Regions from separate parts of the Homo sapiens genome. Here region 2 is linked to region 1. The links come from fine-mapping of genetic effects on gene expression. A gene starts in region 1. The other region holds a variant in brackets. All regions are shown on one strand. Distances are from middle to middle.

The links. PIP is the estimated chance that this variant, and not a neighbour inherited with it, causes the effect. A credible set is the group of variants that fine-mapping cannot tell apart.
Region 2: its variant is the best candidate, but not a certain one, in a credible set for the expression of GANAB in whole blood (INTERVAL, PIP 0.89).

Annotation. Positions count from the first base shown.
Region 1 is chr11:62,645,664-62,648,163 of GRCh38, reverse strand. GANAB (glucosidase II alpha subunit) reads left to right here and starts at 1,551. Exons shown (of 24, transcript NM_198334.3): 1 at 1,551-1,602. The coding sequence starts at 1,565. It overlaps INTS5 (integrator complex subunit 5), which reads left to right. Exons shown (of 2, transcript NM_030628.2): 2 at 1-1,316. The coding sequence ends at 1,144. RefSeq lists a silencer at 1,380-1,459 and an enhancer at 2,070-2,229.
Region 2 is chr11:62,700,374-62,702,873 of GRCh38, reverse strand. It overlaps BSCL2 (BSCL2 lipid droplet biogenesis associated, seipin), which reads left to right. Exons shown (of 11, transcript NM_001122955.4): 3 at 325-406. HNRNPUL2-BSCL2 (HNRNPUL2-BSCL2 readthrough (NMD candidate)) reads left to right here. Exons shown (of 24, transcript NR_037946.1): 16 at 325-406. Among named protein-coding and RNA genes, the nearest start is that of BSCL2, 5.8 kb to the left of the region's middle. The variant C/T (reference allele first, on the strand shown) is at 1,064.

The DNA of each region.
Region 1 (2,500 bases):
ATCCCCCTCCCAGCTCCTGGGACTGGTAAGGGCTGGGGTGCACCGCTTCTTTGCCTCTCTGAGGCTGCATGGACCCCCAGGTGTGGCCTCAGCCTGTCAGCTTCTCACCCGCCTGTCTCAGACATCCCCAGCTGGGCTCAAGGCTGTCCTGCAGCTGCTGGTTGAAGGAGCCTTACATCGAGGCAACACAGAACTGTTTGGTGGGCAAGTAGATGGGGACAATGAGACTCTCTCAGTTGTTTCAGCTTCTTTGGCTTCTGCCTCCCTGTTGGACACTAACCGGAGGCACACTGCAGCTGTGCCAGGTCCTGGAGGGATTTGGTCAGTTTTCCATGCTGGAGTCATCGGCCGTGGCTTAAAGCCACCCAAGTTTGTCCAGTCACGAAATCAGCAGGAAGTGATCTATAACACCCAGAGCCTCCTCAGCCTCCTGGTTCACTGCTGCAGTGCCCCAGGGGGCACTGAATGTGGGGAATGCTGGGGGGCACCCATCTTGAGTCCAGAGGCAGCCAAAGCAGTGGCAGTGACCTTGGTGGAGAGTGTGTGTCCCGATGCAGCTGGTGCAGAGCTGGCCTGGCCCCCCGAGGAACACGCCCGGGCCACCGTGGAGCGGGATCTCCGCATTGGCCGGCGCTTCCGCGAACAGCCCCTGCTCTTTGAGCTGTTAAAGCTGGTAGCAGCTGCACCCCCAGCCCTGTGCTACTGTTCCGTGCTGCTTCGGGGGCTGCTGGCCGCCCTCTTGGGCCATTGGGAAGCCTCTCGCCACCCTGACACGACCCACTCCCCCTGGCACCTGGAGGCATCCTGCACCTTAGTGGCTGTCATGGCTGAGGGAAGCCTCCTGCCTCCGGCCCTGGGTAATATGCATGAAGTATTTAGCCAACTGGCACCTTTCGAGGTGCGTCTGCTGCTGCTCAGTGTCTGGGGTTTTCTCCGGGAGCATGGGCCCTTGCCTCAGAAGTTCATCTTCCAATCAGAGCGGGGTCGCTTCATTCGGGACTTCTCCAGGGAGGGTGGAGGTGAGGGTGGACCCCATCTGGCTGTGCTGCACAGTGTCCTCCACCGCAACATCGACCGCCTAGGTCTTTTCTCTGGCCGTTTCCAGGCACCTTCACCGTCCACTCTCCTTCGACAGGGGACGTAGCCTTTTCTTGCTCTGGAAGCCCAGGGAGGTTGAGCAGTGAGAGAGGGAAGGGACTAACGTGCTCCGGAAGGGTGGAGGTTTCTCTTCTAAGTCCTTGGTCTAAAGAGCGCTGTCACTTTTTTCTCTCCCACTTTTTTTTTTCTAAATAAAATTTGCCAACTTGAGAAAACCAGTCCAGTGCTTCTGTCATGCTGAGAGCGTGCAAAGTCTGACAGCGCCTGGCTCTGGACGTTCCCGCCCCTGGCCTGAAGCCCCGCCCCCTGCGATAATTTGGAGTGCGCACTCTACCAATGAGACAGCTGCCCGGCGGCGCTCAGGTCGAACCAATCATAAGGCCGGAAGGGGCGGGAACTAGGATACGTGGCTGAGCGCGCGCGATGGGGCGGGAGGTTTGGGGTCAAGGAGCAAACTCTGCACAAGATGGCGGCGGTAGCGGCAGTGGCGGCGCGTAGGAGGCGGTGAGGAGCCCGGAATCTGGGGGCGCGCCCGGGACGCCCCCAGATCCCCCAAGTCCCATTCCACTCCTTCCTGTGTGTCTCTTGACACTCTGCCACCCCCGGCCTCGTGAGGAACCTTTGTTCCTCTGGAGGCGGCCTCAGACGCCTCCGGTCTCCCCGTGGTAGATCCGAGCGACGCTGGGGGCCTTGCCTGTGGGGCTCCGGGCTCCCGCCCGGCGGTTTAGTAAAGCCACAGCTGTGCGTCTTTCTTGGTCTTGGCCGCTCTCAGCCGCCGCCCTCCTTTGGCTGCTTGCGGCGGTCAACGTCGCCGCCCCCTTCCTGCAGTGCGCGGGGTCGTCGGGGCGGGGGAAAAGATGCGGCCTGGCCTCGGGGAATGCAGCCTGCGGCCCCGCGGCCCCTCGGCTGAGCTGGAAGCACCGGGCCAGCAGTTAAGCCTGTACTACCCTTCTGGCTCTACCCTGTAGAGCTCCGAATCCTCCTCTGCCCTTGTCTTCACGTGAGCACCAGCTCTGGCTTAGTTCAGTGTCCACGGTCGCTGGGCACGGCCCAGGGTCCAGTAAGCTCACGGCGTGGATGGTGTTGCTCAAACACAACATGTAATCGAATGGCTTGGTCCACGCTCTCGGGTTTATATTACTGGGGAAAAAAAAAGATTCGAAACATATCACCAGTGCCACAAATGTTTACTAGGACCTAACGGATATACTGGGGTGGGGTAGGCGTGTACTCTCCAAAGCGATGAAGAAAGCGTGGATCATAAACTCAGTTCCCTCGGAGCCTGTGATCTGAAACAATAAATGCGTGCAACTTGCCCTGCAGCTTATTCCTGACTTTGGCCTATGAACACCTCTCTTGGGGTGGTCAAGGCCGCCGTGAATTCCTTAGGGCCCTCCAACAG
Region 2 (2,500 bases), 55 kb before region 1:
TTGGCCCTGGAATTTACATTTTTATCAAGCTCCTTAAGTCTTTAGAAACACTGAAGTATGCAACTATTTAAGTATCTCTAGATTCCCATCTAAGAACATCTGTTGTAATGAGAGGACATACATTGAAGTCATAGGAAGAGAATGAAATAATCCTGGTATCTTGAATCTCCTGGCCACATTTGTTCTCCATCTTTGTAACAGAGAGAAGGGTGCCTGTTCTGAGAGAAGGGAGGAGGGCAGGAGGGAGCCCTAGGGGGCAAAGAAGGTGTATGGATGGACTAGTAAGACTAACTTAGCAGAGTATCCTCCTCCAATCTCATTTAGGACCGACTGTGATTCCTCCACCACCTCACTCTGCTCCTTCCCTGTTGCCAATGTCTCGCTGACTAAGGGTGGACGTGATCGGGTGAGTATGGGAACTAGAGAGAGGTTTCATTAGAGCTTTGATGACTCAAAATAGGAAGACTTGAGAAAGGCCTAGAGAGAAGGAATTGAGTAATAAGAGACTGGCCGGGCACGGTGGCTCACGCCTGTAATCCCAGTACTTTGGGAGGCTGAGGTGGGCAGATCACCTGAGGTTGGGAGTTCGAGACCAGCCTGACCAACGCGGAGAAACCCCGTCTCTACTAAAAATACAAAATTAGCTGGGCGTGGTGGTGCATGCCTGTAATCCCAGCTACTTGGGAGGCTGAGGCAGGAGAATCACTTGAATCCGGGAGGAGGAGGTTTCGGTGAGCCGAGATCACGCCATTGCACTCCAGCCTGGGCAACAAGAATGAAGCTCTGTCTTAAAAAAAAAAAGGAGACTAAGAGGAAGGCTTTGAAGGAAAAGAAATTAAAATTAATTGTGTGTATTGATGGATCTTTCTGCAGCAGGTGTTAGAAATGTTCTTTCTCAACATAGTCCCTGACTTACGGTAATTCAACTTAAGAATTTTTCAACTTACTGTGGTGCAAAAGCGACATACATTCCTTAGACACTGTACTTCAGGTACCTATACAACCATTCTGTTTTTCACTCTCTTTCTTTTTTTTTTTTTTTTTCCAGACAGTCTCACTCTGT[C/T]GCCAGGCTGGATTGCAGTGGCGCGATCTCAGCTCACTGCAACCTCCACCTCCTGGGTTCAAGCGATTCTCCTGCCTCAGCCTCCCGAGTAGCTGGCACTACAGGAGCGCGCCACCACACCCAGCTAATTTTTTTGTATTTTTAGTAGGGATGGGATTTCACCATGTTGGCCAGGATGGTCTGGATCTCTTGACCTTGTGATCTGCCCGCCTCCCAAAGTGCTGGGATTATAGGCGTCAGCCACCACGCCCAGCCTGTTTTTCACGTTCAGTACAGCATTCAATAAATCACATGGGATATTCACTACTTTATTATAAGTATAGGCTTTGTGTTAGATGATTGTAATCAACTATAGGTAGGCTAACATAAGTGTTCTGAGCATGTTTAAGGTAGGCTAGGCTAAGTAAGCTATGATGTTCTTTAGGTTAGGTGTACTAAATGCGTTTTCAGCTTGTGATAGTTTCAACTTAGATGGGTTTATCGGAATGTAACCCCATCATAAACTGAGGACCATCTGTATCAGGTGAAGTATGATCTATTTATCTGCTAGGTAAAGTGAGCAATATCTGCTAGGTGAAGTAAGCAATGTTTTAGACCTAAATGAACAAATGAGCTATTACATTGGAATAAGATGGGCATCTACCCAAGAGTTTTGAAAGCATTTATATAACATTATGAAACTGTTGTCAAATATATGCATCGTGTCATTACAAAGGGTACTGTGCCAGAGGACTGGCCAGATGCCAGTGTGATGTCAACAAACCTGGGAACCCTGAGAAATGCATATGGGGACTGGGCCCTCTATAGTAGGCAAGCTAGAGGAGGCTCTCATAAAGGATACGTTCTTTTTTTTTTTTTGAGACAGAGTCTTGCTCTGTCGCCAAGACTGGAGTGCAGTGGCGCGATCTCACTTCACTGCAACCTCCAACTCCTGGGATCAAGCGATTCTCCCACCTCAGCCTCCTGAGTACCTGGGATTACAGGTGCCCACCACCACACCCGGCTAACTTTTGTATTTTTAGCAGAGACAGGGTTTCACCATGTTGGTCATGCTGGTCTAAAACTCCTGACCTCAGGTGATCCACCCACCTCGGCCTCCAAAAGTGCTGGGATTACATGCGTGAGCAACCACACCCAGCCTGAAGTTTTATTTATTTATTTATTTATTTGAGACGGAGTTTCTTTCCTGTCGCCCAGGCTACAGTGCAATGGCACGATCTTGGCTCGCTGCAACCTCTGCCCCCTGGGTTCAATCGATTCTCCTGCCTCAGCCTCCCAAGTAGCTGGGGTTACAGGCGTATGCCACCATACCTAGCTGATTTTTGTATTTTTAATAGAGACGGGGTTTGATCATGTTGGCCAGGCTGGTCTTAAACTCATGATCTCAGGTGATCTGCCCACCTCAGCCTCTTGAAGTGCTGGGATTACAGACATGAG